Homo sapiens: one gene and its partner. The protein of the gene in region 2 interacts with the protein of the main gene of each other region in a pairwise test. Each region holds a gene or a part of one and is shown on either strand. Other genes may lie near its edges.

Region 1 (6,472 bases), on a different chromosome or scaffold from region 2:
ATGTGCCATCAAGTGGCTCCAAAAGGCCACATCATCGGTGGCTCCAATGAAGACTCAACCCCAATACAGACCATTCAGATTCACATCCAAACTGCTGCAGAACCACCAACTGCCTCCTACCATGAATCTCACTCATTCACCTCATGGTCACGAGGGCTTCAAAGAGGAATCAGACCTATGCCATCCTCATAAAGGGCATATTTACAATTTCTAATTCTAAAAGAAATGCTATTAATTTTACACACATATTATCCCAATCTTGGGTTTAAAACATTTAAAATTACAAACAAAATCATAATGAACAAGTGAAGGACACTATGCCGCATCCTGGCTGCATGGAGATTCAAGTCTCTCTCCTGGGGGCTGCAGAAGACCTAGGGAGACGTGACTTGCATATCCAAAAGGCATAGAAATGGAAGAACATGAATAGGAAAGCCAGCCTCACCCTACTGGTGAGAAAACCTTTCCTGAAGCATAAGAATTTCAAGATGGACTTTAACAAAGACAGGGTCGTGACTCAGCAGGCAAGGGCTTAGGCAATGTTTTATTTCCATAATGAATTAATCTCCATAAATGACATTTTTCACACTGGTAAATACAGTTTAAATGTCTCAAGAACTTTGTCTCATCACCCAAACAAGACTACCAGTTCCTTAAAGCAGGGAATACGATCCTTATTTTACATTCATTTTAGTATATACCTCACAGAGGTAGCACAGACCTCTGAGCATTTACCAACAAGATTAAAAAATAGCTAGACATCTAAATTCCAGGCTAGGTCCATAGCCTCACGGCCACTCAACACATACAGTTATAGGAATAACCCAAACTTCCAACAGGGTTTGTGGAAGCCATCACAGGACAGGACTAGATCTCTCAGGGGCAAAGTGAACAAAAGCCAGTGTTCATTTTGTCCCCCACCATAGTGAAATTAAGAGCCTGACCCAGCCTGGTTCCTACTGGTCTGAACCTGATGGGTTGAGACTCCAGAAGGATAAGAATGTCTGAGAATCTTCTGCAGCCCCCCACGCTGCAAAGCCCCATAACAGACCACTGCATGAAATCCTATTCACAGCAGAGACGTGGTCAACACACACAGAGGGAGTGAGGCTGGGAATCCGAGTTCTGACTCCTCGACTGCCAATGTTATGTTTCACACAACAGGTTAGTAAGGAATACAGTGAGCTTTTTTAATCCAATCATTTGCAAATTAATAAGGAAGTAATATACCAACATAATATTTTGCTGTACAAGATGACAATCTTAAAAAGAATTTGTACACATATCATGTGGAACATTTTTATTCCTAATTTATACTTTGAAAGATATCTGACAATGTACAAAGAATACCCAGTTCTAGGTGGTGACTGTTTTGTATAATCATTTATTTACAAAATTTCACCACATAATAGGAACTGCCTTTAAAAAAAATCAGCATTGGTCCTATAAAGGCCATTAGGATAAATTCTTAAGCCTACAAAAGACGCCTTAGTACTACTGCTCCCAGGCTCATTATTGTTAACTAAAATCTGACTCCAAAGCCCAGGTGTAGTTTCTAGTTCCAATTCTACAGTCATTCAGAAGCACGTCTAACTAGATTGACAGAGGACAGTGGAGGACCCAAGCAGTCCTATCAACCTCTATAAGAGGTGTACATAAGCCTACTGCTCATACCCTTCTAGCCATACCACCCTTTATTTATAATGGGACACCAGGTCATCCCATTATGCTAAAACATGGTTGCTCTGGGAAAAAACAAGGCTTTCTCTAGACCAGCTGGACTGGTCAGGAGGGAGAGTAAAAAGTGGCTGTCGCTAGTGAAAAATGGTTTCATTTCTTCGAACTTTTTCCTTTTCCTTTTCTGGGCTCCTTATCTTTTTCTGGTTTTGAAGGCTTTGAAGATTTTGTCTTTTTCTGTTAGGGGGAAGATAACAAAATAGTTAATAGCTGTGTTTATGAGTAAATGAAATAAGTTCATCTCTATAACAAATCTAATCTTTACCTGCAACTTAATTAAAAAAGAAGAGAGGCTGCAAACATCGAGATCTTGAACTACTGCAACCCATGAAGCGCTTACAGCAACAACTGCGCCACTTACAGCCTTTAAAAGCTGGCAGTAAAAACTTTTAGTTTAGAATTTAGAACTAGGATCCGTTCCCCATGTAAGACAGTTTCTTGGATTTAGAACAGAGGTATACTTAGGAAAGACAAAATAAGCAAGAGGTAATTGACAAATAGGGTAATGTTTAGATGAAGAATTTCCTCTTCTTTCAGTTTCAGATTAGAGGTGTAAACAGTCATTTTGTGAAAGCAGAAGAGAGGGAGAGAGGAAGACCACCTGTTAGGGTCGACATGGGAGCCACAGTGAAGAAGGCCACTATTCCTACTCCTGCATACAGAAAACAGAAATGAAGGGCAAGAAGCACCCACACCCAGCGAAGGACAGAGGAGGATCAGATGAGGTTCCTTGGCTCAGCCAGCTGTACACAGCAGGCTGATACCACAATTGGTTTTCATATTTCCCATCAAAAGACAAGAATGTTTTGCTCTAAGAAACTTCTACAAAGCAGTTTAGTGGCTATAGCAAAACATAAGCAACAGAAGAAACTGTTTTGTTACAAACATTTTTCTTGAAAGCATACACCAATGGCTAGATAAATAAAAATGGTACTTTTTCTAACAGAACATATGGCCGTCAATATCATGGCCTGTTTTCTTGCTGTTTGGCTCTTCGACTACCATAAGAAACTTTATAAAAATGAAATCTCTACCTTCTCCACCCTCAACCATGATGAACAAAAAAACTTAAGAAGTATTTTCAAGTTATTCTGCTATGTGCTGAAAAGGCCCTATTATTCACCAGGCAAGGAAAGATCATCTATTTTGAGGTTCTCCTGTCTGTGGCTTAAAATACTACCTTGATCATGGCATCAGTTTCTATAGCATCTTGGTCTTTCTCATCAGATTGAGAGTCATCTTCATTTAATTCTTCATTGTATTCCGAATCCAGGGATGGGCTTGTGCTGTGTCTAGATGCCTTTATAGCTTGAAGTGAGTATGGAGTAAGGTGGGCTTCCTTATTGTAAGCTCTTGTGAAGGCTGCTTTCACCTATATGAAAGGAGTAGATGGAGTTTTTAAAAATCTAAGTCCCAAACAATTCTTTTAAACTCTGTAAGCCTAAAGAGACCCTGGGAGCCCCCTGCAACTGTTTGCAAAGTATTTATGTATATACATGTAAATCTAAGTACGTGCATTTTTCTGTGGATAAGTTCCATATTTTTCATAACATTCTTAATAGAGCCCATGACAAAAAAGACTGAAGGTGGGGCACAGTGGCTCATGCTTCTCCATGAGAATCTTGAACCCAGGAGGTGGAGGTTGCAGTGAGCTGAGATTGCGCCACTGCACTCCAGGCTGGGTAACAGAGTGAGATTCTGTCTAAAAAAAAAAAAAATACGTATATATATATTTGGGAACTTTAGGCAAACAAACAAACAAAAGGTCACTTCAAGTCATCATGTTTACCTATTCAGCATTCTCCACATTTCTACAAAGTAGTAAGCAAAGTTAATCAGTGAATCAGTAAATCAAAAAGGGGCTCGGCTGGGTGTGGTGGCTCACGCCTGTAATCCCAGCACTTTGGGAGGCCAAAGCAGGCAGTTCACATGAGGCCAGGAGTTTGAGACCAGCCTGGCCAACATAGGGAAACCCCATTTCTACTAAAAATACAAAACTTAGCCAGGCGTGATGGAGTGCACCTGTAATCCCAGCTACTTGGGAGGCTGAGGCATGAGAATGGCTTGAACCCGGGAGGCAGAGGTTGCAGTGAGCCGAGATCGCACCACTGCCCTTCAGCCTGGGCAACAGAGCTAGACTGTCTCAAAAAAAAAAAAAAAGGTTGGGGGAGCTCATCACAAGATATAAGTTGGCCTTTAATTTCCACAAAACACTAGATACCTTTTCCATAATAAGAGTAGTTACTTCAAAATACTAAGTAACTTGAAAGTCTTACCTTCAAGCTTCTAAACATAATTCCTGAATTAGTCCATGAATTCTAACAATGGATGTCTGCTGTGAGAATTTACTGATAACCATAAAGTCGGGTCAAAATTCTGGGGAGGGCAAACTACAGAGAATATGTCTTCTAAAACGCATTCATTACACAGGTGCAAGAGTTGGGTATTGGATGTTACATATTCATGATGTATCACTTTAGTTTTTTTCGTCTCATTATAAGAAAAGTGGGGATACATTATTACAGAGAAGATTATCCAACTGGAATAAATACTGAATCCACAGATTAGGTAGACTAAGAAAAAGAAAATTTGTACAAATCCTCAGCCAATAAACATATTTTATTTTTACAACCCATTACCACCAGAGCTCACCGCTCAACTTTTAATTCCCTAGACTCATCCACTCATCCTTTATAAAGAATATATTTATATTTGCTCCTCAAATTTCACTTCTTGCTTTTCCACTGAGCATAAAGCAAAGATAAAAATACAAATTGTAAAGTCAAGCCCAGAAGTCTACTCTTAATACTGCATTCAAATAGTATCTTTGGAAAATATAGGCCATAAGAAGCAACAAGCATTTGAGGGGAAAAAGAAGTAAATCTTAAAGCATCTAAAACACCTCCGAAGTATTGTCAGTACAAACCTGGTAATAGAAAGTGACGAAGAACCAGTGAGTGACATGATTTACCTTGGGATCCAGCTTTGAAAAGGGACTAGGTTTGCCACCCCAGCTGCTGATTTCCATGATATTCTCAAAGTCTTCTTTCATCAAATAATATGTGTCCATAAGTGCAACAACATCCTGTACTCCGTCTACTCCTTGTGAGGTCAAGGGCTGTACAAGTGCATCCCTTAGAAGCGACAGATAATCCATGTTTACAGTCCTTTTGCTGGAGTAAGTTCTGAAACCACAACAAAAGAGACATAGTCAACAGCAAAGTATCAACTCAAGTCATACTGTGCATAACAGCACTGAGTTAATCAGGCAGAGTTCAATCCAATTTCAATAATGCTGAATGGAATGCCTACTATTTGACAGCCAGCTGGTGTAGTTTAGAAAGCCCAGCACCACAGCATGAGGGTAATGGGTACACATCAATGTGCCCAAAGGAAATTTTCTACTTACCTACATCAGTGACTGAAAAACATACGTGGATTCTACTTCCACCCTACTCTTAAGGCCCAGGCAACAGAATGTTTCTTTGTGTTCATAAATATGACTCGTTCCAAGTTCCAAAATATTAAAAGCATCAGTATAAGGCAATGAAATTCCCTATCTCAAGTGTGTGAATGTGTATAACACCTTTTGGTCCCTGATTATAACACACAAAATCATATATGAATGCTTCCCTCACATTTCCTAATACTGTTACTCTGAAATCGTCAGTTCTAGAGCCGGCTTTTCTCCAAATCTAAGAAAATTACAGAGTGTTCCCACAAAATCAAAAAGTGATCCACAGTGGCCAGAGGAAGGTTTAGGGAAACAGTCTCTGGTCTGCTGAGAACTCGAATGTTATCATAAAATGACTCTTTCTTTCTCTCTTAAATGTTGTCACTTCTTAAAGACAGAAAGCAACTGAACAAAACAATATTTCAAATGCCACCATCCTAAATCTTTCCAACCCAGCTGCCTCTATCTTCAAACCAGGCATTTATATGTATACATTATTTATTTATTTATTTATTTATTTATTTATTTATTTATTTAAAGACGAAGCCTCACTCTTGTTGCCCAGGCTGGTGTGCAGTGGTGCAGTCTTGGCTCACTGCAACCTCCACCTCCCGGGTTCAGGAGGTTCTCCTGACTTAGCCTCCCAAGTAGCTGGGATTACAGGCACCCGCCACCACACCCGGCTAATTTTTTTTTTTGTATTTTTAGTAGAGACAGGGTTTCACCATCTTGCCCAGGCTGGTCTCAAACTCCTAACAGGTGATCCACCCGCCTTGGCCTCCCAAAGTGGTGGGATTACAGACGTGAGCCACCGCACCCAGCCTGTATACGTAAAACTTCAAAAGTTGTTGTTATCAGAACCAGCATCAGAAGCAAAAAGAAATGATTCTTTACAAATTGTCTATGGGTCCTGCTCCTGCCTTCAAGGAACTGAATGTGTGAACCATAAGAAGCCACAGCTTTTTTCCTGATCAGAAATCTAGACTCACCCTCGCAACTATTACCTAGACAAAGAGTTTTTAAAACTCTCCTAGTTTAATTTCATCCATTTCCTCTAGATTGTCTTCCATAATTAAGCACGCTAGTACTTAAAGGAAGCAGTGTGAGTCCCTAAGCCACAGTACCCCCAGAAATCATGAAACCATTTCCAAAACTGTTCTACAATGTTTTACAGTATCATCATCTTCTAATAGACTCATAGAAAAGTCAAAGATGCCATTTAGTGCACCTAAACCAAGGGTTCTTAACCTCAGGAATCTGTAATTCCCCTAAAAGTGTTTT
Region 2 (6,463 bases):
AGGATCACTTGAGCCCAAGAGGTTGAGGCTGCAGTGAGCCAAGATTGGCCCACTACACTCTAGCCTGGGCGACAGAGTGAGACCCAATCTCAAAAATCAAAACAAAACAAAAAGGGAAAAAAATAGTATCTTACCAAAAAAAAAAAAAAGGCAATTCTACAAATTAGTACGAAATTCTTTGGGGAATTCTAAAGCAAGCGCAAAGAGTATGGTCTAGAACACAGGAAGAGCATCACGGTGTTTTCCTGAGGGCTGGGCTGCATCTCTCCACTCTGCCGCCCTCTCTGAAAGGCTCGCCACCTGGCCATTCTGAGAAATCAGTCTAAATAGGAAAGACAGCAAACCCTGCCCTCGCCCTGGGGAAGTGGCGCCTTCAGGCTTCTAGAAGAACCGAGATGAGCTTGTGGGTCTACTATCTAATCGCCTTTTCTACTTGTAGGCTGCCAAGGCCCGTAGAGACAGGAAGCTGGTTTTTCTCGAGGCTTCACATGGTCACCTTATTGCCAACAAACACTGCAAGGCTTTATTAGCTAAAATGTCAACCCACACACAGATCAGAGACCGCCCTCAGCTTCTCTGCGCCTTTCCGCCCCGTCACCGCATCAATGGGGTGGAGGCCAAACTCAAACACTTGCGGGGCACAGACGTCCCAGAAGCAAACATGCAAGTCACGGGAGTTTATTTATTTAATTTTTTTCCCCAGATGGAGACTCTGTCGCCCAGGCTGGAGTGCAATGGTGTGATCTTGGCTCACTGCAACCTCCACCTCCTGGGTTCAAGCGATTCTCCTGCCACAGCCTCCCGAGTAGCTGGGATTACAGGTGCCCGCCACCACACCCAGCTAATTTTTATATTTTTAGTAAAGACAGGGTTTCCCCATGTTGGCCAGGCTGGTCTTGAACTTCTGACCTCAGGTGATCCACCTGCCTCGGCCTCCCAAAGTGTTGGGATTACAGGCGTGAGCTACCGTGCCTGGCCAGCCACTGGAGTTTAAAGGACAGTCATGTTGGCTCCAGCCTAAGGCGGCATTTTCCCCCATCAGAAAGCCGCGGCTCCTGTACCTCAGAATAGGGCACCTGTAAGTCAGTCAGTGAAGTCTCTGCTCTAACTGGCCACCGGGGCCATTGTCTTCTGACACAGCCTTGCCAGGAGGCCTGCCATCTGCAAAAGAGAGTTCACTCCTTCCGCTATTTTCATGTGAGTGTATCCAATTTCCTGAAAAACAAACCAAATTCAAATCTGGTTAATAAGTGGGGGAGTTCTTTTTTAAAATCTGAACTGAAAAAAATAAAAATAAAAACAGAAACAAACTGAACTAATGGTTTTTTCAAAATCAGCATGAGGAATTCCAACCCCAGCCGGAAAATGAATGCTAAGATGCAATGGATTATGTTTACCTAAAGTTCTATTTATTTCTTAAAAGGATGCTGATAGTTCTTTCAAAGAAACTGTTAAGAAAATGGGTGGGGCGAGGGGGGGCGGGGTGGTGGCACGGAAAGCCAGGCTAGAGGAAAATATTTATATATCTGATAAAGAACTTGCATCCAGACTGTATAAAGAATTCTCAAAAATTCAGTAATAAAGTCCAGGCGTGGTGGCTCATGCCTGTAATCCCAGTACTTTGGGAGGTCAAGGCAGGTGGATCACGAGCCCAGGAGTTCGAGATCAGCCTGACCAACATGGTAAAACCCCATCTCTACTAAAAATACAAAAATTAGCCAGGTATGGTGGCGCACGCCTGTAATCCCAGCTACTCGGGAGGCTGAGGCAGGAGAATCACTTAAACCTGGGAGGCGAAGGTTGCAGTGAGCTGAGATAGTGCCACTGCACTCCAGCCTGGGCAACAGAGCAAGACTCCATCTCAAAAATAAATAAGTAAATAAATTCAGTAATAAAAATCAAACAACCCAATTAAAAAATGGGTAGATTTAGACCTGGAGCAGTAGCTCACACCTGTAATCCCAGCATTCTGGGAGGCTGAGGCAGGAGGATCACTTGCCCAGAGTTGGGCCTGGGCAACATAGCAACACCCAAACTCTACGAAAAAAAGAAAATAAAAATGACCCAAGTGTAGTGGCACATGCCTGCAGTCCCAGCTACTCGGGAGCCTGAGGTGGGAGGATTGCTTGAGCATGGAAGGTTGAGGCTGCAGTGAACTATGATCGCACCACTGCACTCCAGCCTGGGTGACAGAGCAAGACCCTGTCTCTCAAAAACATAAAAAAGGTAGGCCAGGCGCAGTGGCTCACACCTGTAATTCTAGCACTTTGGGAGGCCGAGGCGGGAGGATCACTTGAGCCCGGGAGTTCAAGACCAGCCTTGGCAACACGGGGACACCCCGTCTCCACCAAAAATATAAAAATTGGCCGGTCTTAACATGATCTCTAAACAAAAAATACAGTACAATTAAAATAAAAAATGTAAAAATTTTAAAAAATGGGTATATATGAACAGATGTTTCATCAAAGAAGATTCTGGATGGCAAACGAGCACATGATTAAATGTTCAGCATAGTAATTAGGGAAATGCAAATTAAAGGCACAATGAGATCTCATCACATGCCTATTAGGTTATTTTGTTGTTGTTGTTATTGGTTTTTTTTTTTTTTTTTTTTTTAAGATGGAGTCTCACTCTTGTCGCCCAAGCTGTAGTGCAGGGGTGTGATCTCAGCTCACTGCAACCTCCACCTCCTGGGTTCAAGCGATCCTCCTCCCTCAGCCGCCCGAGTAGCTGGGATTACAGGTGTAAGCCACTGCATCCGGTCATTACACACCTATTAGAATGGCTTAAAAACCAAACTGAGCACTCCATGTGGTGGCTAGGTTGAGGATCCTCCGGAATGCTGGTGGGAATGCACGTGCTGCAGCCACTTCGGAAAACCGTTTGGCAGTTCCTTATCGAGTAAAACATACACTTATCATTTTCCCAGGCAATTTCACCCCTGGGAACTTACTTGGGAAAAAGAAAAACTTAACATTTGCATTCACACTAATCCATATATGCAAATGTTTACACTGGCTTTATTCACAGTCACCACAATCTGTAAACCCAAATGTCCTCCAGCTGATGGACAGATAAGCAAACTGTGGTACACGCACAGGATGGATTACTTCTCAGTGATAACACGGACTGACTCATGGATAGAAGTACCAGCGTGGACACATCTGAAAGGCATTTCTGCTACAGTGAAAGAAAGAAGCCAAACTCACAAGGCTAAGTTCTACATGATCCCATTTATATGATATTCTGGAAAACTGTATCCCATGAAACAGAAACTACATCGGTAGTTTCCAAGTGGTAGTCGGGGAGGGGGCTGGCTTCAAAGGGACACATGAGTTGTTCTGGGATGACAGATTCTGCATCCTGATGGTGATAGTGTTTGCATGACTGAGTGCGTTTGTCCTGTACCTAACAGGCTGAATTTTACTCTATGTAAATTAAACCTCAATTAATCTAACCTTGAAAAATCAATCAATCAGTCAATACACAAGAGAGCCTTGAATGAAGAAAATCAGAACTGTGTGAAACAAACTTGGTCCTCAGGACAATCAGCCACGTTGATCTAGTTTGGACGTCTGTCCCCTTCCAATCTCATTTGGAATTTGGTCCCCAATGTGGGGATGTTTGGGTCATGAGGAAGATCCCACGTGAATGGCTTGGTGCCCACCCCAAGGTAGTGAGTGAGTTCTGGATCAATTAGGTCCCTGGAGAGCTGGCTGTTCAAATGAGCCTGGCACCTCCCTCCGTTCTCAACAGGTGGTCTCTGCATGCACAGGCTCCCACTTCCCCTTCCAACATGAGCAGAAGCAGCCTGAACCCCTCCCTAGAAGCAGATGCTGGCATCATGCTACATGTACAGCCTGCAGAACTGTGAGCCAAATCAACCTCTTTTCTTTCTACATTACCCAGTCTCTGGTATTCCTTTATAGTAACTCAAAGGAACTAAGACACAGCCTCCCTCCCACTGCAGTTGGGAAACACTGAGCACCTTCTAGATGCCAGGCCTGTGAGCAGAGAAAGCGAAGCCAGGGCCCACAGTCTTTTTTTTTTGTTTTGAGACAGTCTCGCTCTGCTGCCCAGGCTGGAGTGCAGTGGTGCGATCTTGGCTCACTGCAACCTCCACCTCCCAGGTTCAAGCGATCCTCCTCCCTCAGCCTCCCAAGTAGCTGGGATTATAGGCGCTTGCCACCACACCCAGCTAAGTTTTGTATTTTTAGTAGAGATGGGGCTTTGCCATGTTGGCCAGGCTGGTCTCAAACTCCTGACCTCAGGTGATCCGCCCACCTCGGCCTCCCAAAGTGCTGGGATTACAGGCATGAGCCACCACGCCCAGCCATGCCCAGCTAATTTTTGTATTTTTAGTAGACAGAGGCTTTCACTACGTTGGCCAGGCTGGTCTCGAACTCCTGACCTCAGGTGATCTGCCCACCTCGGCCTCCCAAAGTGCTGGGATTACAGGTGTGGCCCACAGCACCCGGCCACTATGGGCCACATTCTTGAGGACAGAGGCATTTCTACATTCTCACCGACCTTGATAAACTCCAGTTTCAGGTATTCTGCCATTTGGAAAGTTTTACACACTCGAAAGATGTTGCCAATGATATCTTCTGGTGAGTAGCCCAGATGCCACAAGTGAGCAAGAATCTAGACAAAGGAGACAGAAAAGGCTGCTTACCACTTTAAACTGTAAGAAGACATGTGATTTTGAGACTCACCACAGCTGGTGGGGCCCACCCTTCAGGTCACATGGGGGTACCTTAACTGATTTTCATGGCAGATAGAGAGATAACATTGCAAATGTATTGTTGTTTTGCTTAAATATTTTTTTTTCAGTAATATAAAGATAAGAGTCTTGCTATATTGCCCAGGCTGGTCCCAAGTTCCCGGCCTCAAGCAATCCTCCTGCCTCGACCTCCAAAAGTGCTGGGATTACAGGCATGAGCCACTGAGCCCAGCCTATCGCAAATGTGTTAAGCTGTGTTGCAAAATGGTCTACTACCACACCCATGTAATCTCTTGATCCGGAGCTCTTAAAATGCTTTATTAATCTGATGACTAGGTATAGCAAAGTGGAAAAAGCAGACCATTCATCTGCTAGCTTCATCCAGCTGCAGTCCCAATGCAACCTCTGCAGGACGAGCCTGGAGCACACCCTGACTGGGTAATCCCAGCCTCCTGCTTCCCACCCACCCTGCCCCACCCAGGCTGCAGCGTCTGGAGGCAGGCCTTTTTGCCTTTGTTTTGGCATCTTGGGGTGAATTCAGGAGGCAGAGAAGCTCTGTGCCCACAAATCTGAAGGCTTTCTTCAGGTCTACTCAGGGACCCTGGGCCTGGGTCTCTGCTCAGTCTCCCCGCCTTGCACTCCGGTTTCACATTGGGTGGAACTATGCCCTAAACCCAGTCAACTTCCAACCTAGTTTGTTAGGGGGTAGGCAGAGGGAAACCATGACTGGATCAATGACCTTGAACCACACCAACCACACCACACCCATGTGGCTTGAGGTCGCCTGAACCCCAGCCACATCTGCTGGAATCTGCTCACAGCACTCAGTCCCATTGTGAGGCTAGAATCTTCCTGCTCCCTCCTCTCCTGGCTAGCTGGGGGCTGCTGGATCCCAGAATGCCTGTGCCTATGAGAATGGATGGGGACACTTCCCCTTAACTGGAGAGAAGATGGCTTCCCTGGAGAAGGAGCTAGGCTGGTCTTTCCTCCTGACTTTGGCTGACAAATTTCTCCTGCAGAGGATATAATTACAGGAGAAAAACACCATTTTGAATTCTAGTTCTACTGCTTTTAAACCATGACTTAGGGCTGGGCATAGTGACATGTGCCTGTAGTCCCAGCTACTTGGGAGGCTGAGGTGGGAGGATCGCCTGAGCCTGAGAGGTAGAGGCTACAGTGAGCTGTGACCGCGCCAGTGCATTCCGGCCTGGGCAACAGAGTAAGACCCTGTTTCTACATAAATAAATAAATAAATAAATAAACAAACACAGTGATTTAGGACAAGGAATTCAGCCTCTGAATCAGTTTTCTCATCAGTAAAGTGCACCCAACTCCTAGCATAATTTTTTTTTTCCAGTTCCTAGACAGATTAACACATAGCATGATATTAATAATTTTTTTTTTTTCCTGAGACAGGGTCTCACCATCACCCAGGCTGGGGTACAGTGGCGCAATCACAGCTCACTGCAGCCTTGACCTCCAAGGCTCAACAAATCCTCCTGCCTCAGTCTCCCAAGTAAGATTTCAAGAATGAATGGAGTGATGTGTATAATGTCCCTGGTACCAGAAGGGCTCCCGCTCTCCTCTGCCCAAGAAGTGAGCGGTTCCTCTGCCAGGACGGGGGGAAGGAGGCCAACCTTGTAGGCTTCGTCAATGTTGGCATTCACACAGTGCTGGATCATCTCCTTTACCAGCAGTGGGTGGGGCTCGTCACAGACCTGGCCAAAGGGAAAGGAAAGG

Evidence for each region.
Region 1: the proteins of RFC2 (region 2) and RFC1 interact in binary tests that used the Homo sapiens proteins (3 or more experiments, as listed by UniProt).

The regions. Positions count from the first base shown.
Region 1 is NC_000004.12:39,286,931-39,293,402, forward strand, and holds the end of RFC1 (replication factor C subunit 1), read right to left. Parts: intron 4,923-6,472; coding exon 4,709-4,922; intron 3,110-4,708; coding exon 2,918-3,109; intron 1,915-2,917; coding exon 1,831-1,914; 3' UTR 526-1,830; downstream 1-525. UniProt on the Homo sapiens protein: Subunit of the replication factor C (RFC) complex which acts during elongation of primed DNA templates by DNA polymerases delta and epsilon, and is necessary for ATP-dependent loading of proliferating cell nuclear antigen (PCNA) onto primed DNA.
Region 2 is NC_000007.14:74,231,002-74,237,464, forward strand, and holds the end of RFC2 (replication factor C subunit 2), read right to left. Parts: intron 6,442-6,463; coding exon 6,361-6,441; exon of another isoform or gene 6,355-6,360; intron 4,645-6,354; coding exon 4,531-4,644; intron 1,216-4,530; coding exon 1,105-1,215; 3' UTR 501-1,104; downstream 1-500.